Linked DNA regions of Homo sapiens: region 1 is linked to region 2. Evidence: fine-mapped QTL for protein levels in blood plasma. Region 2 holds a variant in brackets. A gene starts in the other region. All regions are shown on their forward strands. Region 1 holds the start of LCN2 (lipocalin 2). Region 2 overlaps CCDC26 (CCDC26 long non-coding RNA).

What was found. A credible set is the group of variants that fine-mapping cannot tell apart. PIP is the posterior inclusion probability: the model's chance that the variant is causal. Protein levels are from antibody-based Olink assays in UK Biobank. Linkage for the fine-mapping came from a reference panel and not from the study's own genotypes, which makes the PIPs less certain.
Region 1: it holds the start of LCN2, and the variant in region 2 is the best candidate, but not a certain one, in a credible set for the plasma level of the LCN2 protein (UK Biobank, PIP 0.59).

What each region holds. Positions count from the first base shown.
Region 1 is chr9:128,145,303-128,153,302 of GRCh38, forward strand. LCN2 (lipocalin 2) reads left to right here and starts at 4,151. Exons shown (of 7, transcript NM_005564.5): 1 at 4,151-4,361; 2 at 4,936-5,072; 3 at 6,336-6,415; 4 at 6,604-6,723; 5 at 6,881-6,982; 6 at 7,798-7,824. The coding sequence starts at 4,224. The coding sequence ends at 7,817. RefSeq lists an enhancer at 872-1,371 and a silencer at 5,501-5,550.
Region 2 is chr8:129,604,735-129,620,850 of GRCh38, forward strand. All of the region lies in intron 1 of CCDC26 (CCDC26 long non-coding RNA), which reads right to left. Among named protein-coding and RNA genes, the nearest start is that of CCDC26, 67 kb to the right of the region's middle. The variant C/T (reference allele first, on the strand shown) is at 7,836.

The DNA of each region.
Region 1 (8,000 bases), not on the chromosome of region 2:
CTCAAGCAGCAGGGCCCGCTTCCCCCTGTCTGGTGGACCCCAGGGGTTCACCAGAGGGAGGAATCCAGTGGGTGTACTTGGGGGAGGGTTGGGAGGGGATTTTCACAGGCGGGCAGGGTCCCTGTCAGGTAGAAGGGGCAGGAGGACCTCAAGGCCCCTTGGCGAGCCTTGGCATGAGAGAGGATGGGGGTTGGAAAACTGTTTCTGGAAACAGGAGACTCAGCCCAAGACCCTGGCAGGGCAAGCTCCTCACACTAAACAGCCCCTCCCGTTCCTGGGTGTTTGAGAGTCGGGTGCCCAGCCCGGACCTGCCGTGACCAAGGAGAGCTGATCTGCAGACACCAAGACTTCCTGCATCTGTGACTGGGCCTCCTGGGGGCATCTTGACTGTAGACTCCTTCCAGGTGTGGTACCTGGCTCCTAGAAGCCTAGCCAGTCACCTCCTGCCCAGCCTTCAAACACGTCAGAGGGTTAACCATTCATGGCCACGCTGAACACTACTCACAAGATCCGGAAACCAGAATGGGGAGTCAGACTGGATTCCTGAGATGTAAGGACCGCCAGGAAGCATCTTGCTGCCTTCATGCATGGATGAGACCTGGGCCTCTCCATGGGAGGACAGGCTGCTGCAGTCTCCAGGGAGCACCCACTCTTGGGCGTGGAGAGTGGGGACAGCTGCCTGCCAGAGACTGCGAGGGGAGGTCGGGAGCAGCCGGAGTACTTCTGGTCTCTGGCCACGGAAAACCCAGGCAGGGACCTGTCTTTAAGCTCCTGCTGTTGCTAAGCCGACCTGCACAGCAGGACTTGGGAGCCCAGCCCAGCTCCTCTCAGGAGGGGCTTGGCCCCATTGCTTCTGTGTGGCTCGTTGAGGGCTCACTAGAGGCACCTGCAGCTCCTTGAGAGAAAGCAGGCCCAGTCCAGGGGCCACGGTGGAAACCATAGGAGGGGCCGAGGGGAGGCAGGTGGGTGCCTGTCATGCCATGCACAGTGCCACACGTGTCGTGGAGATTGTCCCAAGAGCCCCGGGGTCCAGGGACTCCCCCAAGCGCTGAGCAGTGTGAACACTTGTGTACCCTCATTGGCTAGGGCCCAATGAATGGGGCCCAGTGGAAAGGGGGTGGGTGAGGAATGGGGCCCCAGTGTCCTGTTGACCCTGGAGCCCTTGGAGTCGGTCAAGTCTGAATGGGAGGTCTACACCACAGTCCTTACCCAACCTTCCTAGTGCTGAGTCCTGAAGCTTGTGTGGTGGGTCTATGTAGAGCTGACCCCCTCCCTGCAGCCCTGCTAGACTCTGAAGAGAGCCAAGGCCAGTGGGTAGGAGACAGGTCTGGAGCTGGTGCAGAGAGAGGAATGAGCCCTGCATGGGTTTGATCAGAAACTCAGCCTTGTGTAGGGACACCCTGGGGCCCGGTGCTGTCCATGCATGACCTCACAGAAGCGCAGAGCTGCCCTCTCTACAGAGGAGCGCCTGATTTGTGTGGGAGCTAGGCAGAGATCTGCATGCATGCGGAGGAGCCAGGCTTCAAGCCAGCCTGGGGGACCCCCAAGCGGGACTATCTCCCCTTCTGCACCTGGCTCTGGTGTCTTCCCACTGTGGACCCAGTGCCCTGCTCACCCACCACATTCATACCCTGGAGTCCTGGGTCCTCAGAGATCCATGACACTGCCTCACCCCCAACTTCAAATTCTCTGGGGCTCCACCCGCTGGTCTCAGCTACGTGAAGCAGTCACCGTAGACTAGAGGGTACTTTTTAGATTTAGGTCACTCTATCATCCAGGCTGGAGTGCAGTGGCACAATCATAGCTCACTGCAGCCTCGGCTTCCTGGGCCCAAGTGATCCTCCCACCTCAGCCTCCCCGAGGATACGTGGTTTTTTTTTTCTTTTTTCAGACAGGGTCTCACTCTGTCTCCCAGGCTGGAGTGCAGTGGTGCGATCTTGGCTCACTGCAGCCTCCGCCTCCCGGGTTCAAGCCATTCTCCTGCCTCAGCCTCCTGAGTAGTTGGGATCATAGGCATGCATCACCCCACCTGGCTAATTTTTGTATTTTTAGTAGAGACGGGGTTTTGCCATATTGGCCAGGCTAGTCCCTGAGGATACATTTTTTTTTTCCCCGAGATGGAGTCTCCCTCTGTCGCCCAGGCTGGAGTGCAATGGCGCAACCTTGGCTCACTGCAACCTCCGCCTCCCAGGTTCAAGCAATTCTTCTGCCTCAGCTTCCCGAGTAGTTGGGATTACAGGCATGCGCCACCATGCCCAACTAATCTTTGTATTTTTACTAGAGACAGGGTTTCACCATGTTGGTCAGGCTGGTCTTGAACACCTGACCTCAGGTTATCCACCCGCCTCAGTCTCCCAAAGTGCTGGAGTTACAGGCGAGAGCCACTGCGCCCAGCCGAGGATACCTTTTTTTTTTTTTTTTTAAGACAGAATATCGCTCTGTTCCAGGCTAAAGTGCAAAGGCGTGATCTCGGCTCACTGCAACCTCCGCCTCCCAGGTTCAAGCTGTTCTTCTGCCTCAGCCTCCCGAGTAGCTGGGATTACAGGCGCCTGCCACCATGCCCTGCTAATTTTTGTATTTTTAGTAGAGATGGGGTTTCACCGTGTTGGCCAGACTGGTCTCGAACTCCTGACCTCGTGATCCACCCGCCTCAGCCTCCCAAATGCTGGGATTACAGATGTGAGCCACCGCACCCGGCCTGGCAGAGGATACTTTTTAAGGTCAAAGACAGTAGCAGAGGTGGAGTTCCTGGGAACAGGGTCATGAGGGGAAGAGGGGGTTCGGAGGGAGCGAGTAGCCACTGGCTACCTCTAGAAAGGGAAGGCTTTGGTGCAACATCGTTCCCCTGCAGTTTTACTCATCTTTGCTTCCTGCCCTTTCATCATCCAATCGGGCAGGCAGGACAGGGCCTGAGGGGGCAGGGATCCAGTGGGTGCCTCTCTAGACTAACCCCAGCTCAGGACTCCCAGAGCCCCTTCCCTGAGGCCCTGCTGCCCCCAAGCCCAGATTGGGGATCCCAAGCAGCACGTAGGCAGAGCCAGTGAGGTCCCCGTTAGTCCCATTGAAAGCTCTAAAACCAGCGAACCCTCAGTCCAGCCTCAGGTCAGGCATCCAGGACGGCCTCAGCCCTCATGGGTGAGCCATCTCTGCGGACACTGCACAGGGCCTACGATCCATCGCTGCCTCCCGAGGATGCCAGCCAGGCCCCCGTTGAGATAACTGCTTCCCTGCTGGACAAGGCTGGGACCAGCCATCTCGGTGACAGTTCCAGAACCCCTGGCCTGGGCTGCTGGGTTCAATGGAAAAAGGCTGTGACTAGAGTCAGGGGGATGGTCTCAGTGACCTCAAGGATAAGGCCAGATCCTTGCACTGTCAGTGACCCAAAGCAACAGGTGTCCAGAGCAGCAGTGTGGCGCCTTCACGCCCCCACACATCAGCCCAACTCACCCAGGACAGGGACTGTAGCCTCAGCACTCAACCCATGTGCCCTGTGTGGGGTCTCTTCCCACTGCACTCACAGGAGAGGAAGGGTCCCTCAGGGGTCCACTGGGGTCCCCTCCTGCAAATGGGGCAAGGAGAGGGGCAAGGGGCTGTCTCAAGGCCCCTGGAGCACATGCAGGTCCTGGACTGGGGCTCCTGGGAGGGCCATGATTCTGGGCTCCATGAGTTCAGAGCAGACGCCTTGTTTTTCCTTGTCCACTGTCAGCCACCCCACCCTTCCCTGACCCTTAAAAGAACCAGGAAACAGCACATGATCTGTTGGAAGGAGGCATTCATTCTTTCCTTTCTGTGGGTGTGGGGAGGGGACCACAGGGCACATACCCCACCCTGGGATCCAGCTGAGCAGGGGGGTCAGAGATGACAGCTCTTCCGGCTCACAGGCCACCGGCCCACATACAGGGCAATCAGAAGAAAGAAACAGCACAAGGAAGGCACAGAGGGAGTCGTTGTCCCTGCCAGAGGTGCAGCACTCCGGGAATGTCCCTCACTCTCCCCGTCCCTCTGTCTTGCCCAATCCTGACCAGGTGCAGAAATCTTGCCAAGTGTTTCCGCAGGAGTTGCTGGCAATTGCCTCACATTCCTGGCCTTGGCAAAGAATGAATCAACCCACCCTAGATCCCATAAATAGGGCCACCCAGGTGAGCCTCTCACTCGCCACCTCCTCTTCCACCCCTGCCAGGCCCAGCAGCCACCACAGCGCCTGCTTCCTCGGCCCTGAAATCATGCCCCTAGGTCTCCTGTGGCTGGGCCTAGCCCTGTTGGGGGCTCTGCATGCCCAGGCCCAGGACTCCACCTCAGACCTGATCCCAGCCCCACCTCTGAGCAAGGTCCCTCTGCAGCAGAACTTCCAGGACAACCAAGTAAGGGGCCAAGAGGGGCACCTGCAGGCAGGGCCTGGGGAAGAGTGGGAGCAGAGGGGAGGAGAGGTGAAGAGACTCAGGAAGAGCGTTGGGCAGGACTCTAGGAGTCCAGGGTCCAGGTTTCAGCTCACTCTGTGCCACCAGGGTCCCCTGGTGGAAACCATGCCCCTTCCCCCCATCCCCACCCCCTCTCAGCCTGAACAGACTCCCCCAGGTCCACATCCCCTCTCCCATAACCCCCATTGTCCAAAGAAGGTGGGAGCACTTTTAGTCCCCCTGCACAGATGAGGAAACTGAGGCTCAGGAAGGCCCACCAGCCACATGCCTCCTCCAGTGAGGAGGTCACCCTCCTCCCTGCCAGACTCAGAACCGCCTCTTCCCCCAGGACTCCCTTCTGGACTGATGGCCTCCTGCTCCTGCCCCTTCACCAGTGCAGGCCCAGCCTGGGCCCTGCTGCCCAGCTAGAGGGGCTCATGGTTCCAAGCTGGGCGGCCCAGAGGTGCCACAGGGACAGAGCTGGAGGGGTGGCTCCTAGGGCCATTCCTGGGTTGTGCCTCTTATCAGTCCCTTGCAGTTCCAGGGGAAGTGGTATGTGGTAGGCCTGGCAGGGAATGCAATTCTCAGAGAAGACAAAGACCCGCAAAAGATGTATGCCACCATCTATGAGCTGAAAGAAGACAAGAGCTACAATGTCACCTCCGTCCTGTTTAGGTGAGGGCCGACATCTCCTGGGGGTGTGAGAGTCAGACTGACGTCACAGGCAAGGGATGGCCAAAGCTGAGGGATCCTGTCGTTCACCTCGCTGTTCTGCCCGGAATTCATCTGTGTTCATCCTTCCTCTGTTCCTTAGAGCAACGTTTATAGCACATTTCCATGCAGACACACAGACAGTGGTGGGGATGGACATGCACAGTCGTTAGAAAACAAGACGGAGAGAGGAGGGGTGCCTGGGAGCGGGAGGAGGGGACACTGGATCCAGCCTGGAACCCCACCCAGTGCCTTCATGGAAGGCTTCCAGGGAGGTGGCCTTAAAAGAGCCAACCTGCTTCAAAAGGAAATGTGGGGTGTTCCCGGCAGGGGCTGGAGTCAGAGAGAGCCCCCCCTTCAGGAAGGAGCAAGCCATCGCAGGGTCACCCTGAGCAGAGCTGCTGAGCAGCCTGGAGGGGCAGGTGGCCACGCTAGCACCTAGCACGGTCCTCAGGCCCCGCCCCAGCGGATCTGCTGCGGAGTGGCTTAGAGCAGGGCTCTTGGGCCGCAGGGTGGGGAGACTTGGTGGGGTGCAGCCTAGGGGGTCGGGAGACCAGCGAAAGTGAAGCGGGGCCGTCACAGGTGTGAGAGAACAGGCGCAGGGTGAAGAGGCAGGGAGCCAGGGATCAGCCGCCCCCAGTGGGTTTCTGACTCTGGCAGCTGAGTGGATTGGGATTGGGGCATTTGTGGAGCAAGGAGCAGAATACAGACAGGTTGGGGAGCTCAGCCCTGGGGTGCCAGGGGATGGGAAGTGGGAGGACTCAAGGATGGGGTCAGGTTTGACCCGAGAGCTAGGGGAACGGCTGGCATGGAGCAGACTGGAAGTACCGAGGTGGATCCCCGGGAGAGGGTATAGGAAGGGAAGCAGCAAGCTGAGTGCAGGGGAGAAATGCAGGGTTTCTGTGTGTTGGGTGGCGGGGGGGGTGAAAGCCACCCAGGGAGGCAGCCAAAGGAAAGAAGGACATCGGGTGCTGGAGGGTCTGAGTGGGGTCCAGGGGCCCCAGGCAGGCCAGGAGGGACAGCCTGGTGTCAGCTCAGGGAGAAGGCCCAGGCCCATCTCGGCTGGGTGGGGTAGGGCCCCTCCAGGTAGTGGGGGATGAGCTGTCACGGGTTGGGCCGGACTGAGAGCAACAGAACCCTGCTGCTGCCCTGGCCCCACCTTGTCCAGCACAGGAGGCCCAAGCCTGGGTTGTCTCCCCTCTCACCCACCCATCTCTCCCTCCCAAGGAAAAAGAAGTGTGACTACTGGATCAGGACTTTTGTTCCAGGTTGCCAGCCCGGCGAGTTCACGCTGGGCAACATTAAGAGTGAGTCTTGAGTGAGGTGGGGCACTGAGTTGGGGCTCCGGGGAGCTGGGTAGGGGCACAGACCTTCCTGCCCCTCCACACAGATGTGTTGTATGGGGAGAAGCCCACGTTGATGGGCTGGGGAGGGAGGGGACAGCTCCCTCCTCCCATCCAGGGCAGGGCTGACCCCTCACCGTCCACGCCTGCAGGTTACCCTGGATTAACGAGTTACCTCGTCCGAGTGGTGAGCACCAACTACAACCAGCATGCTATGGTGTTCTTCAAGAAAGTTTCTCAAAACAGGGAGTACTTCAAGATCACCCTCTACGGTGGGTCCTCTCCCATCCCCTCGGGGACTGGCTCCTGATCACACTTAGTGGGAGGGGAGGCCGGTCCCCCATGAGGAAGGGATCTGAGGCCTCATCTACTCATTCAACGATATTTATGTGGTGTCTGCCAGCCACTCACTGGCCATCTTGGTCACAGGGAGAACCAAGGAGCTGACTTCGGAACTAAAGGAGAACTTCATCCGCTTCTCCAAATCTCTGGGCCTCCCTGAAAACCACATCGTCTTCCCTGTCCCAATCGGTAATGGCCAGTCTGGATGAGGGGACGGGGACATGGGGACTGTTCAGGCAGGATGCTTCCCTACCAGGGATCAGGGAGAGGAGGGACTCCGTCCTCAGCTTCAGTCACTGGAGCAGTGGATGGTCCAGGAGCTCCTTGGAAGCCACTCTGGGCCCAGGAAGACTGTGCCCCACCCCAGGGTCTATGGGACTCCCAGGGACCCAGGCCGCAAGTGCTCTTTCCTGGCAGTTTAGCCCGGGTCTGCCCAGACAAGGATTTCAGGCCCAGGCCTGAGTATCCATTTCTCAGTCTCACTGGCCTGACACCTCTGGCCACCCTCCCAGGCCCCCTTGTTCTGGGCCATCTCCCCCGACCCTCCCAGGCCTCGTCACCCTGGGTTTTGCTGTCCTGGCTGTCCTCTCTCCCCTGGGGACTTGCTCACCACTGACTTGGGAGCTGTCCTTGACTCCAGGGAGCCTGGCTTGGGCAGGAGGCTCCAGCCAGGCCATTCAGAGAGCCACTGGCCTCCCCCAGGCTGAGAGACTGCCTGGACTGGTAAACAGGCAGGAGACCTGGGTGCCCGAGGAGCCTGGGAGCTGGGCCTCACTCAGGGCAGCCCCTCCCCAGGCCTTTCTCCCACATCCCCTGCCCTGCCATCCACCCCTCTGTTGCCCCATCTCTGAAAGGAACCCCCATATCTTCTGCAGCTGGGCCAGGTGGGGCAGGGGCTGCCCAGGGGCAGTGCAGAGGACCTGGCAGTCAGGGATCACACACACACACTCATACACGCACACACACACACAGCTGCCTGTTCTGACGGACTTTCTCCCTAACAGACCAGTGTATCGACGGCTGAGTGCACAGTGAGTGTGGCTGGGCGGCTGCGAGGGGGCTTGTGGGAGGCCAGGGTGCAGTGGGCTGGGGGTCTTGGGCCTGCCTTTGCTCATCCCCCTGCCCCCCAGCACTGCTGCTGTCTTTATTCTGCTGTCCCCATCTCGGGTGCCTCCCATTTCCCCACCCATCACCCTCATATCCACCT
Region 2 (16,116 bases):
CTACTCCTGGTACCAACTTACTGTATTAGCCCATTCTCACACTGCTATAAATAACTGTCCAAGACTGGGTAATTTAAAAAGGAAAGAAGTTTACTTGACTCACAGTTCTGCATGGTTGGGGAGGCCTCAGGAAACTTACAATCATAGCAGAGGGGGAAGCAAACACATCCCTCTACACAAGGCAGCAGGAGACACAAGAGCCAAGCAAGGGGGAAAAGCCCCTTATAAAACCACCAAATCTCATGATAACTCACTCACTATCATGAGAACATCAGCATGGAGGTAACTGCCCCATGATTCAATTACCTCCATCAGGTCCCTCCCACGATATGTGGGGATTATGGAAACTACAATTCAAGATGAGATTTGGGTGGGGACACAGCTAAACCATATCAAATAACAATATTAAACATCTTATCATGTGCTTATTGGCTATTTGTAGATCTTTTTTTAAAGAAATGTCTATTCAAGTCCTTTGCTTATTTTTTAATTGAGTTGTTTGGGGTTTTCTTTGTTTTATCTATATCTTCTTGGGTCAGTTTCAGTAGGTTGTGACTTTCTAGGAATTTGTCAATTTCATGCAAATTGTATAATTTATTGGAATACAATACTTTTTTATTTCTAGAAGGTCAAAAGTAATATCTTCTCTTTTATTTCTTTTTTTTATATACTTTAAGTTTTAGGTTACATGTGCACAACGTGCAGGTTTGTTACCTATGTATACATGTGCCATATTGGTGTGCTGCACCCATTAACTCATCATTTAGCATTAGGTATATCTTCTAATGCTATCCCTCCCCTCTCCCCCAACCCCACAACAGTCTGCAGTGTGTGATGTTCCCCTCCCTGTGTTCATGTGTTCTCATTGTTCAATTCCCACCTATAAGTGAGAACATGCGGTGTTTGGTTTTTTGTCCTTGCGATAGTTTGCTGAGAATGATGGTTTCCAGCTTCATCCATGTCCCTACAAAGGACATGAACTCATCATTTTTTATGGCTGCATAGTATTCCATGGTGTATATGTGCCACATTTTCTTAATCCAGCCTATCATTGTTGGACATTTGGCTTGGTTCCAAGTCTTTGCTATTGTGAGTAGTGCCGCAATAAACATAGATGTGCATGTGTCTTTATAGCAGCATGATTTATAGTCCTTTGGGTATATACCCAGCAATGGAATGGCTGGGTCAAATGGTATTTCTAGTTCTAGATCCCTGAGGAATCGCCACACCAACTTCCACAATGGTTGAACTAGTTTACAGTCCCACCAACAGTGTAAAAGTGTTCCTATTTCTCCACATCCTCTCCAGCACCTGTTGTTTCCTGACTTTTTAATGATTGCCATTCTAACTGGTGTGAGATGGTATCTCATTGTGGTTTTGATTTGCATTTCTCTGATGGCCAGTGATGGTGAGCATTTTTTCATGTGTTTTTTGGCTGCATAAATGTCTTCTTTTGAGAAGTGTCTGTTCATATCCTTTGCCCACTTTTTGATGGGGTTGTTTGTTTTTTTCTTGTAAATTTGTTTGAGTACATTGTAGATTCTGGATATTAGCCCTTTGTCAGATGAGTAGGTTGCAAAAATTTTCTCCCATTCTGTAGGTTGCCTGTTCACTCTGACGGTGGTTTCTCTTTTATTTCTAATTCTAGTAATTTGAATTTTCACTAATTTTTTGGTCAATTTAGCTAAATATTTATTAATTCTGTTAATGTGTTTAAAGAACTAGCTACTCTGTTGTTTGGTTTCTATAAATTTGTGAGTTTCTCAAATATAAGAAAATCTTTTATTGATTTCTAATTTCATTTCATTACAGTTAAGGAAGACAGGTTTTATTATTTCTATACTTTCAAATTTATTGAGGTTTGTTTTATAGCCTGCCATAGGATGCATCCTTCACTTGAAAAGAAGATATATTCTGCTGTTGTTAGGTGGAGTGCTCTACAGGATTCTGTGCAGTCTAGCGGGTTTATCATGTTGTTAAATTCTTCACTTTCTTTGTTGATCTTCTGCTACTTGTTCCATCCATTACCAAAAGTGTGATATGGAAGTCCCCAACTATTGTTTTTAATTATCTATTTCTTCTTTCATTTCTGTCAGATTATACTTCATGTATTTTGCTGCTTTCTTGTTAGATACATATATGTTTATAATGGTTACATCTTTCTGATGAATTGAACTTTTGATTATCATAAAATATCCCTCTATATCTCCAGTAAAGTTTTTTGTTTTAAGGTCTATTTTGTCTGATGAACACACCAGCTCTCTTGTCATCACTGTGTACATGACATATCTTTTTTCATCCATTTACTTTCCATTTATTTTATTTATTCTTTTGATTTTTCAGAAAGAGTCTATTCTGTTGCCCAGGCAGAAGTGCGATGGTGTGATCTTGGCCCACTGCAGTCTCAACCACCTGGGCTCAAGCAATCCTCCCACCTCAGCCCCTGAGTAGCTGGGACTACAAGCAAGTGTGCCACCATGCCTGGCTAATTTTTTTTTTTTTTTTTTTTTTTTTTTTTTTGGTAGAGACAGGGTCACCCTATGTTGCCCAGCTGGTCTCAAACTCCTAGGTTCAAGCAATCCTCCTGTCCAGGCTCCCAAAGTGCTGGAATTATAGGCACAAGCCACTGCATCCAGCCTTCAATTTATTCTTGTCTTTAAATCTAAAGTGTATCTCCTATAGACAGCATATACTGGGAACTTTTTTTATCCAGTCTCACAGTGTTTGCTTTTAATTGGATCATTTATTTTATTCACATTTTATGATACTGATGTAGTTGGATTTATGTCTGCCATTTTACTTCCTTTTTTCTATATGTCTCATGTCTTTTTTGTTCCTCTATTCCTCCTTTACTACTTTCTTTTGCATTAACTTAATATTTTCTAATGTAGCATTTTCATTTCTTTAATGATATTTTCTACTATTTTTAGTGGTTGCTCTAGGGCTTACCATAGATATACCTTAACTTACCAAAGATATACCTTAACTTACCAAAAACAGCTTCAGATTTATACTAATTTAATTCCAATGAGATATAGAACTATTGCTCCTATATACGTTTATTACCTTCTTCTCCTTTGTGTAGTTTTATTGCTATGCATATTACATATGTAAACATTACCAATTCAGCAATACTTCGTAATAATTATATTATTACTTCATATAATTTCATGTCTTTTAAAGACATTTCTTTTTAAATTTATTGGCAAGAATATTAAATTTCTATGTATTATAGAGACAAAAAACATATTCATACTGTTTTATATGGTTTTATAAAAAATTAGTTACAAGAAAAAAGGCATAAATTGATTCATAAGCCAATCAAATCAAATTCAGGCTCCTTTGAAGGTATAGTTCTGAATGTCAGTGTTTAAGGTTTGTTCTGACCACAGGAGGGTTCTTCCCAGCTATTTCTTCCCTGTTTCCCTCTCTGGTAAACTAGCGAGCCTATAACACCCACGAATCTATTAATCTCCCAATTACCTTTCACCACAACTTTCACTATTTTTGAAAGTGTCCTTGGGCTTGAACTTCTCTGCAATCTGTTGCAAATGAAGCAAGTTCCTTTGGTCAGAGATTTGGAACTCTCTGCTTCTATAGACTGTTTTCCCCCTGGTATAAATTTCTGAGCCAAGCCCTGGTACTAGGGGTGGGGATGATGGCGTGCTTCTCTCTGAGTGACAACTCCACTTTAGGAGCTGAGTGCTGAGTGAGTTGGGGAGGGGCCATCAGCCCCAGGTCCCTTTGGCTTGCCCTTCTCCACATGGAATCCTTGTCCCCAAGCTTGAGCAAGGGGCCCAAGTTTTCTCAACAGCACTACTCCCAAGGTAAAACCTCCATTCCATAGTTGAGGCTGGATGGAACAAGGGAACCCCCCGGCTCCCAGCTGTACTTGCCCAGAACCTGGCCTCAGCAACAGGTAGCTGGGAGCAGAAGGAGAAATGCTTATGTCCTATCCCCCCAAGGGAATATAGTCCTCCAACTTGGAATTAGCAGGAGTGAGGGCCCTGGGTTTTAGGCTATACCAGTCTGGAATATATGGTACATCTTGCTGAGCTGGAATGGGGGAGAGAGAATGCAGGTCTTGGCTCAACTAGCAAAGACTCTCATCGTTCTTATTGAGTTTATTATATTTTCTTAAATAAATGTTTTTTTTTCATTTACTATATGCTCTTAGAACCATTTCCAGAGACTTTAAATGCTTGGGAGAATCTTATATAATTTTCAACAAGTTTTGCTGGGGATGAGGTCTATGGAGCTGCTCACATCATTACGGAGAAACCTCAGCACAAACTTCAAATGATAAAATGCCCTGGAGCTCATTCTCTAGATCTCTTATTTTCTGTATCTAGACACACTCCCTTGATTATCTCATCCAGTTGTGTGGCTTGATATATCATCTATACATAGATCTAAATTGCAAGCCTGGTTGTCACCTCTGATTTATAGATTCTCATACCAACTGCCTCCTCGACTAGGATGTTAATAAGCATTTCAAACTTAAATCCAAATTTGAGCTTCTCCTATCTCTCCTAAATCTGTTGCTCCCACAGTCTTCTTTATTCCATTAAATTATTTCTATTTCTCAGGCCATGAAGTCAACTTTAGCTCTTCTCCGTCTCTGAGATTTCACATTTATTCTATTAGGAAATCATGTAGCTCCACCTTCAAAATAAATCCAGAATCTGCCCACTTTTGACCACCTCCATTATTATCACCTTATTTGCAACCATTATTAGCTCCAATCAGATTATTTAAATAACCTTCTAGTTAATAGTATAAGCTGTTTCTACTCTTGTTCTCCTCCAATTCATTCACCACAATGCAACCAGAGCAATTCTATTATAAAAACAAGTCCATTTATTTCACTTCTTTTCTCAGAACCCTCCAACAGTTTTCCATGTCACTTAAGACTTTTTAAAAAGTCATTTTAATAGTCTACAAGTCTTTCCACAGTCTAGCATCAACCCCAAATACTTGTCTGATCTTAACTACTCCTACTTCCACGCTCTGCCCCAGCTCTGCTGACCTCCTTACTATTTCTGCAATACGGCATTCATACTTGCCACTCAAGAATCTGATCTTGCTGTTTCTTCTGCCTATAATGCTCTTCACCTCTTCCTCCTCACCTCCCTCATGTCTTTAGACAACTATTACCCCTCCCTTATGCCTGGATCTCCTATCCAAAATTGTAACACTAAAGGGAAATCTTGGGGTGTTAACATGAAAAGGAAACTGTGCCTGAATATTGGAGCATGTGAGGCTTGGAAGTGCAAGGGAGCACCAAAATTTAATCTTAACCCTAATGGCCAGGCATTTAGATTTTATGCAAATGTAGGGATAGAAGATACGGCCTTGGACACATGTATGGTAAGGACCTACCAGAAATTGAGACCTATGCATGAAGTCAGAACATTAAACACACACACACACACACACACACACACACACACACACACACACACACACTAGAAAAGCACCAGTCCACAGAAGCAGAAAGATGCTACTAGAAAGGCAGTTTGTCAACGAACCAGAGGAGGCAAGGAGTCGATATGATTATTGAGGAAATTTAAGCATCTAGGAGTCAGTTGGACTAGAAGATATTACATCCATAAAATACCATGATTTGGTTTATCGTTAGACCTGGCTCTGCTCCTTACCACTTATGTGATCTTGTATATATCTTTTACATTTTCTGAACCTCAGTTTACTTATTTACAATATGAAAGAAAAAATCCTGTTATGTGGATCTCACACTTTATTTTCGAGGCAGAACATGAAATCGCTATGTAAAGTGAAAATACTATAAAAAGAGTAATTGAGATGTTCCTTAGAATCTCTGAGATGTAAGTTATCCTAACTCACCTCCTCCACCCCTCCCATATTTACATATATTTGAATCCAATCTCTTCCTTATGGTTTCCCCAAATCTCCGTTCTCATTTCCATGCCCACCATATTAATTATGCTCTCTGCCAATTTCCAAGATCAAAAGAATCCACTTAAGCCAAACATCTGGTGATTTTAGAAACTACACTGAAGATTTGAGGGTTCATAGCAGAGGAATATTATTTCTTACCTCACAGAACTCTGTCATCTTTTCAGACCTGTACTTCCTGCTGTCCTCTTCCACAGCCTGTGTTCCCAATATATGACTCTCTTTGCCATGCACAGACTCATGGGAAATGCACCTATTTACCCAGGTCCCACCGCTTGTCTCCTGGATTACTACAGTGCAACATTTTTTCCATCCCATCACATACATAATACCACAGTTTCACAACTGACAAAGTTTCAGAAGTTGACAAAGGTCAAGGGAGACCGTGCATTTTTCCTAAGAGTATAGATGCAAAAGCACAAACCACCAGAGTTGAGAGCATGTTGGTAAAAGAAAAAAAAACTACACACACACACACACACACACACACACAATCACATACACCATTTATTCTTTTGTAGTAATGTAACTTCAAAAATGATATGCCATACCCAAAAGTGCCAGACATTGTATGAGGTCAACTGAAGCACAGGTGCTTCACATCCCATCACATCATTCATTCCTAGGTAACATTTCACCACAGATCACTGCATTCATGTAAGTCATTCGTTCTAGATTAAGAATCTATGTGGTATAACCGTGTGTTATAATAAACCTTCAACAAACTTTTCAACAAATGCTTTACAATGCAACCTCATTAAAGAGTACTAAAAGATTTGCAAAACAGACAATTCGTATTTTCACAATATTTGGCATGTAGCAGGACTTAATTTGCTGCTACAAAAACAGAAATATTCTTTTTTTTTTCTTTGGAGATAGGGTCTCACTCCATCACCCAGGCTGCAGTGCAGTGACATGGTCAGGGCTCACTGCAGCCTCGACCTCTCGGGCTCAGGTGATTCTCCCACCTCAGCCTCCAAAGTAGCTGGAAATATAGGTATGCGCCAACACACCTGGCTAATTTTTGTGTTTTTTGTAGAGATGGGGTTTCACCATGTTGCCCAGGCTGGTCTTGAACTCCTAGGCTCAAGCTTGACCTTCCAAAATGCTGGGATTGCAGGTGTGAGCCAATGCACCTTGCCCAGAAACATTTTTACAATGTTGCTGATGTTACTATTTGGCCACATGATTCCTAATTACGACTGCTAACCTGGATCATCAATGACTTGTACCCAACTAAGAGCCTTTTCATTACCTCATTTAATCCTCATAGCTCCCATGTCTCAAAGGTACTATTGTTTTCATTTTACAGATAAGCAAACTGAAGTTTAGCCAAGGGATATCTCTTGCCCAAGATCTCCCAGCTAGTGAGTGGCAGGCCCAAGAGTTGAATTCAGAGTGTTCCTGACTCGGACATCTATATTCTAAACAGACACCCAATGGCACTCTTCTGATTTTCAATATATTACGCTTTCAGCAAGCATGATGTATAACTAATCCTTCTGGGGGCAGAAAAGAAAGGCTGTGAAGTAGAGGCTCAAACTTTTGAAAGTGATTTTGCTTTCCCTGTCTGAGATAACCCATCTGTAGAACAGGAAGATACACTTACTTTTAGCCAGGAAAAAAGTATATTTTATTTCCAACTCCCTTCTTCCTTCTAAGAAGGGTGTTACATTGTCAAAGGTGGTGAGGATGCAAATTGTAGCTAAGATGGAAGAAAAAGAACTAACATTAATGAACTTGGAGAGATATGGTGTCTGGGGAAGATAATTGAGACCGAAGGGGAAGAGAGACATAGGCAGTATGTAGCCAGGGGAAGAGATGTTATGGAAAAGAGCATGGTCAACTAAAAGTGTTTATGAAGTATTTTGGGTGATGTGTGATATAACCTAACTTTC[C/T]CTTCCATCTCCAATATAAAATATTCAACTAAAAAATTTAAAACTCACTAAGAATGGAGCTGATGTGGGAAGGGAGAGAGGTGGAGTGAAGAGAGTTGCTAAGCCCTGCTTAGGTGATGCAGACACAGGATTAGAAGTAGGGATGAGAATAGAAACAGCACCTATGGAGAAATTGTCACATCCAGGTAACATGAAAATGAAGGAAGGAGCTATAGAACTGTCACCCTGTCTTCCAGCACTATGGCTAGATCAGCCCTCAACAGGTGGTAAGCTGTGTTGCCTCAGTCTGGGGAGTCTCAGGCTAAGTTCAGGCCGGACCCTAGAAGAGTTTCAAGGAAGGAATTAGGATTAAGAAAAGAGCAGACCATGATCTCCACAGAAAAAGGATGTGTTTTGTGCATTTCTATAACTTCCATACTTAAAGTGTCTGATTAATTGCCTGGACTCAATGAGCTTTTGGTGAAGGAATTAATAAATGAATCAAATAAACACATGAGTTAATTGTTTAGTTTGAACAAAAGTGGCCTACCTGTCCATTGGCTTCAGAATGGTTTCATGGAGATGGACAGCAACCCAGAATTCTCAGAAATGCAGCCAGTGTGGCTGCCTGCGTCACCTCTTTGGTTTTGGAAAGATTACCCTTCCTAACACTCAAGAGTTTGATTTTAAATTCCCTGTACACATATGGGGAGATAGTACATAAACATACTGATCAACTAAGCTAAGCACCTAAGATTCAGAAGGGATTTACTGTCCCAGAGGCTAACACATTTAACCGAGAGCTCTCATCCCATCCTAGGCAGCTTTCCTAAGGATCAGATAACATCCCACACAATTTGTAGAGCTTCTTCCTTAAACGTGCTGTGAATCCCACCCACCACACATGCCACTAGCTATAAGACTGTGGGTAGGTCACTTCTCTTCATCATGCCTCAGTTTTCCGGAGCAATGTCCCCCATTGCTCTAGTAGTCTATGGTTCTGTGAAACTTCATTGGGTTCTTTCTGCTGCACTAAACTACAGAATCTAACCTGTGGTCTGAAGATTCCAGCCCCAGGAATAGATGTCACTTTTTAACCCATAAAATCACTGTGCTTCCATAAAATCATTTTATACACTGATATTCGGAAGAGTAAGTGTCTGTTTGGAAAGGGTTGTCAACCACAAATGTGGAAAACAGACAAAGAAGGTAATTTGTATTAAGTACTTTCAGCCAAGCACTCTGTCAGGCAAGCTGTACACATCATTTCATTTAATCTCTCCTAATAGCTCTGCAAGGTTGGCATAACTGTTTCCATTTTACAAATTGGAGAAACTGAGGCTGGCAGCAGGCAAGAAGCTCGTCTGAAGTCATAACAGTTGAAAAGTGACAAAGTCACTTTCAAGCCAACTTCACTTGGCACAAAGACGGTGTTCTCATAACTACAGCAAGGAAAACGTATAAAAATAAAGTTTCTCAGAATGTGATTAGCAATGTGATAAGCAGCATCCTGTGAGTACACAGGCTGTATCCCATTATTCTCCTACCCTCACTCAGTTCCGCAAGAAGACAATCGGCCTCCTTTAGTGTGACCACAGAAATAGAAAAGGCCATATTTCCTAATATTTGTGTTAGGAGCTGATGATAAATGATCATGCAACTAATAACACATCGATCTTACTTCACATGTCTCGATTTATCTCGTAATTTGGTTAAAATAAGAGATGGTTCAGGAATATTTCTAAAAATATCAATAAGCCCTGATGTTCTGACTAATAATCAAAAAACCTCATAAGATGAGTTTAGGACCAAATGCTTTTGTGCTACTTTCCAAGAATTTCAAGATTAAATCTTCTTGCAGGAGTATCATCAGTAGTTCCAAAAAATATTTTTTTTTGGCTTGAATAAAGCCAGTAAAGGAAAGTTTTCAAAAATAAAAACCCCTGGCATGGGTACATGATTCTACAGTTTACAAAGTCTTCTCATGCTGATTATCTCATTTGAGTCCCTCCAAGCTATCTAAATCTGTCAATCTAAACAATCTGTTAAAAGTACAGGAATTAATGACCCCTGATATATTTGAATACAGTGAGCAATATTAATTGAGAGCCTGGTGTGTGCCAAGTTCTTTGCTAAGGGCTGTAGACACAGTAGTGAACTAAACACACACAGTCCCTGCTCCCACAGAGCTTCCAGTCTAGTCATTACACAAACATTACACACAGTCGTTACACAAATAAATATACGAATGAGAGCCAGCATATTATGAAACTCATCCAGTAGAAAAAGCTGGCAACCTCCAGTAAGCAAACCTCCAGTCTTCTGTCTTCAAGATTACTAATGTTACTTACATGGTTATTTCATTTATTAGAGTCTTGATTTTTCACATTTGTAAAACAGCATGATGTTGGTACCTACCTTATCTGGTCATGGTGGGGATTAAAGAAGATAACACATGTGAACATTCACCAAACAGTAGGGGCTCAAGAACTGTTTCTTCCCTTCTCCACCCTGACCTCCCCCTTCCCTTCCAAAGCTCAACTTTGGTGACAGGACTTCCCTGCCTACCCCATCCCTCACCTACTGAGATATCTTTTCTCTCAACTGCAATAGATCTTGAGATCTTGATGTCTACTTCACTCCTTTAAGAATTAAAAAATAACTTATTTTTATTGTTTTCTTATTTTTCTTGTTATAAAAGCAATACGCTCTCATTGCAAAAAAAAATATGATACTATAGAGATGGCAAAAAAAGGAAGATAGAAAAATGAAGCAATTGCCTTCAACTCAGAGATAACCACTCTATTTGTATTTTATGTATTAATACAACCTAACATATTTCTAAGCATATTTTCATTAAAAATGTTTTCATAACGATTTTATAATATGGTTTTCTGCTACCTACTATATCATAAGCATCTTTCCACTGAAATAAATATGCTTTTGCATTATTTATACTATTCCATTGCATGGATGGAGGCTATCATTTTCTTAATCAATCTTAATATTTGCATGTTTAGGTTGTGTACAACTAATGTTGCACTGAATATTTATTCTCATAGCCATTTTTTGTTTACATATTCTGAATTCTTTTTGTTAGTATTCACTCAGCTCTTTTGACACAAAGCATTGTCCTGATCATAAATTCCATTAATTTATGGTCCATCTATGTCTTGTACTGCTTAAATTCTTCCTAGAACCCAGAATGATTCCTCGAAAATTAAAATTTATCAAGTTCAGACTGATGAACCTGAATATCCCATAGACTTTCTCTTTGAAGAGCTAAAGCTGTGCTGTCCCATGTGCTAGCCACTAGCCATGTGTGTGACTGTTTAAATTTTTAAAATTTGAAATTAAATAAAACTGAAGATTTAGTTCTTTGGCCACACCTGTCACATTTTGAATGCTCAATGGCCACATGTAGGGGTGTGCCACATTGGACAGTGCAGCCGTAGAACATTTCCATCATCCCAGCAAGTGCTGCCGGATAGTGCTGGTCCACAGGGATAGTGGTTATAAATTTGCTTTGAAAAAAAACAGATTAAAGAAGTCACTCCTGCTCCCCCATCCAATTCTCTTTTAGGCAGAACCATAATGACTCTAAAACATAGATCCAGCTCTCTGTGATCTCTGTTTATAACTCTTCTATGGGATAAAACCCATGCTCTTCCTCTTGCCTCTCCCATCAGCTGAATCTCCTTGTCTCCCTCCTCTCCTTCTCCTCCACCACATTGAACAACTCCACTCACACTTCTGTGCTTAAGCAAATCATGCCATCTGCCCAGAAGACCCTTCCTTTCTGTCTGTGATTGGCTAAATTCCATTTGTCCTTTAAGACTTGGCTTAAGCAAATGCTTCCTCTGGCAAGTCTCTCTGGACACTTCCAGGCTGTGCTAAGTTCCCTTCCACTGCAGTCCACAGCAATGAAGACATATTTACATTACGCTAAAGAAGTTTAAGCCTTAGGCCCGTTCCACGTTTCTGGCAGAAGCTCTAACAGTGCATTCGCATACTTGTATATTTTTTGTAAAATTGGCAAAAATAAGATATTTTAACTGGAATCCTTTAGGAAACTCTTCCCTCTCATTATATTTCCCTTCATGTCAATGGCATTGCTATGGCTGCAGCATTTGCAGGATAGCTTTGTGGAAGGTGAGTTGGTAATGTGTCTCTTTATCTGCAAATGGAGAGACATTTCATGTCAATTAAATAAGTAAGAAATGACAGAGTCCTGATGATAATATATATATAAAGGTACCTTTGTCATTTTTAATTTAGATATTAAATAATGGATACAAAGTTCACATAAAAAATTGAATATGAAATAACAGCAATTCATAAGAGTGACAAGAATTGGTACAAATTATTCTGACCTCAAGAAGTAAATTGCCAGAAAAAAAAAACAATCAGACCATACCTAAGGTAGTAAATTCACTAAGAAAACATTTTTAATAGAGTAATCAATAGGCTCTCAGATAGTTTGGTAGTCCAATTAATAAAGAGGAGTGAATCCTATAAACACATTGGAAAAATATTTATGTTCCCTCCTGGTTTAACTGACACTGACAAAGCAATAAATTCATAATACACCACTAAACAAGGCAACAAGGACAAACTTGTTAATAAATGTCATCAGTGAAAAGAGCGTGGTAGGCTAAATTGGCTACCCCAAAAAGGTGCTCATTTTGTAATGCCCAGAACCTGTGAATATGTTCTCTTACATCACCAAAAGACCCTTGCAGATGTTATTAAGGTTATAGCCTTAAAATGGGGAGATTATCCTGGATTATCTGGATGGACCTAATCTAATCACATGAGTCTTAAGAATGGAAAACAGAGACAGAAGAGTAGGTCATGAAAGGATACATGAAAGAGAACACTGTGGACTTTAAAGACAGAGGAACAGGATCTCTAGTCAAAGAATGTGGGTGGCCTCTAGAATCTGGGAAATGCAAAGAAATGGCTTCTCCTCTAGAGCTTCCAGAAAGGAATGCAGCCCTGCTAGAACACTGATTTCCCTCCAGTAATATCTGTGTTAGACTTCTGACCCACGGGACTAAAAGGTAATAAATGTGCATGGTTTTAAGTCATTACATTTATGGTAATTTGCTAAAGCAACAGTAGAAAGCTATTAAAAAGAGAGTTTAGAATTTGTCAGTACATAGAAATGCCCTGAAACCTGATTGCTCATGTAAGAAGAAAACTTCAGAAATTTTTCAAAATTGGATAACAATTCTAAAAATTTACAAGACTTATTAATGGGCTCCGAGGCTGAAGCTTTTCTAAGCTATTAGTTATGTAAAATAAAAATACCTTGTGCATTGATTTAAAGGAAGGACTGAATTATCTTTCCATTTTTCTCCAAATAAAATATTACAAAACTATTACATGTAGAAACAATCAGAGAATATACAGTCAAAAGTAAAGAAAAAATATTATAAATATGGGTCAGGCATTTAACTGATAAAAATACAGTATGATATGGTCTGGCTGTGTCCACACCCAAATCTCAACTTGAATGGTAGCTCCCAGAATTCCCATATGTTGTCAGAGGGACCCAGGGGAAGGTAAATTGAATCATGGGGGCTGGTCTTTCCCGTGCTATTCTCGTGATAGTAAGTAAGTCTCACGAGATCCGATGAGTTTATCAGGGGTTTCCACTTTTTCTTCTTTCTCATCTTCTCTTGCTGCTGCCATGTAAGAGGTGCCTTTCACCTCCTGCCGTGATTCTGAGGCCTCCCCAGCCATGTGGAACTGTAAGTCAAATTAAACCTCTTTTTCTTCCCAGTCTTGGGTATGTCTTTATCAGCAGCGTGAAAATGGACTAATACACAATCTCTGTCTTCATCTGGGAGATTTTAGGGCTATCCCTGTATATTAGGTTGAGTTTCCCCAGAAGCAAATCCTGAGACAGGGAGAATCCAAACAGTTTGAGACAGGATACCAGCACCAAGAACGGCTCCACAAACAAGCAACCTATGCAGTTGCCCGAGGCCTGTGCTCAAAAGGGTTTTGCACTTAGTTTAATGCTCTGCTATTACCATTTCGAAATTCTTAATAATTTTTCAACAAGGGCCTCACAATTTTAATTTGCACTGGATCCTGAAAATCCTGTAGCTAGTCCTGACCACAAAATACTAGCAGGAGGGTGAGAAAATGACAGAAAGGAAGATAACTTCTAGAATGTGTTATTGGGCAAGTTGTTGCTGTGGTATCTGGAGCCCAATCACAGTGGGGAGCTCTAGGAGTTTGCGTGGGAAATGTTTGACAGTTGTCCCATGCAACAGGTGTTTATCCTCCAACAAAATATTCATCCTTCACCACCTAGGGGTGGCAGGCTCCCAGAGGCATTAACTCCCCCACACTTCCATCCCACTACCTTCAAACATTGGGAGGAGAGGTGCAAGAGCTTGTAGTAGGAACCTGAGGCATTTACTAGAAAACTGAGTGTCAAGAAAATGTGGTTAGGTCCCCACATTGAGTGCTTCTGTTGACTTTTTGTAATTTTTAATTTGTTGTAATATCTATTCTTATACCAAATAAATATTCAGTTTTATAAAGAATTTTCTATTTCTAATTGTCTTTTTTCTTTTAAAATACTCATTATGTATATAAGCTTCAGGTCCCATGAAACTGAATCCATCTATACCTTCATGATAAAAATTACCAGTACAATTAAAATTATTTCCTTTGCCATCTATTTCATTGGGCCAAACATATTCCTCTAGAAGTCCTTAGCTCTGAGAAGATCATGTTTTCAGCCATCACCTCCCTCACTTACAATTCAATATAAAATAACATTAGTCAAAATCAGTGCCTTCAAAGCGTCTGGTAGGGCCTCAGGGTATGGATTTGGAAGTTGTACACTGCACAATTCTAGGGCCCACCATTTATATCTTAGTTTCTTTGAAGAGTACCTTCTGGAATTGTGCAGTACACAATATGCATGATAGCCCTGCAGACTTCTGATACCTAATGTGGCCATCAAAGTCCACTTTATTTTCTGACATTAAATGCTTATCCATTTTATTTCTGTTCCAAATATTTCCATCTCTCCCTCCACTGAGCTCTCATTGTTTTTGCGCTTCCTTTGGTAGAGTGTTTACTATACTATTTTTTAATCAGTGATTTTCCCAGCTAGACTGAACTTCTGGAAAATATGGGATTTTCCGCTATTAATCTTTACATCCATAATGCTGTAGCGTCTAGTATAGTTGCCTATGTTATCTTACTCATCATTGCATTATGCCTGAATCATAGTAAGTATTCAATAAATATTAATATCCAATAAATACTAGTTGACTGAGCATACAATAATGAGTGAATGAACAAATGAATCTTTACATTCTATGTGTCTGTATCATTTTACCCTATTTTCCTACCTAGCACTTCTGACCATGTTTATTTAGTTATTTATTTTTTCTCTATACCCAAAATTCATGTTCCATGAGGGTAGGGAAACTTAATGTTTTGTTTATTTATGTAATCTTATAACTGTTTGGTGCCTGGAACACTAGAAGGTGCTTGAAAAAAAAAGTTTGTATTAAATCAATAAATGAGAAAACAGACTACCCAATAAACTACAATTATTCCCATTTTATGGACAAGGAATGAGGTTCTTGGAGTTAAGCAGCTAGTAATCGTCAGCACCCTTATTCAATCTCAAGTTGGTTTGACCCCAAAATGCATCCTCTTTCCATTATTCCATCCTCCCTCTCATTACAGTAAGAGTCCTCTTAACTGTACTCTCTTATTTAAGACTAACTTGGTCACTCTTAACTTGTGCACACATGTTGGCTGAGGCCCACAAACCTGAGAGCTCTAGCTAATAAGCTACATGCTATAAATCACATACTTCTGGACTCATCCATTCGGTTACATGTTCATCAAAAGTCACCTGTACATGTCTATCAAGCCAGTTCCCACCATTTTCTCCCCTGAGAAATGGGGGTAATCATATCATTGTCCTTACAGGCTAGTTGTGACAATTAATAAGTGAATTTAGGTCAAGCACTGAGAACAGTAGAAGCCCTCAGAGTTAGCTAATATTGCATGTATGTATTTAATAAAATAATCTACAACCTGTGGAATCCGAGTATTAAAAAGGAAATTAGTGTTTCTATGAAAACTAAGTTGAATTCATTGAAAATTTTTGGTAAAGGCAAGTTGATTTTTTTTTTTAGCCACTTAGGTTTTTTTTTAACTTTTATTTTAGGTTCAGGGGTACATGTGGAGATTTGTTTTATAGGTAAATTGCATACTCAATGTTTGTTCTCACTTATAAGTGAGAATATGCAGTGTT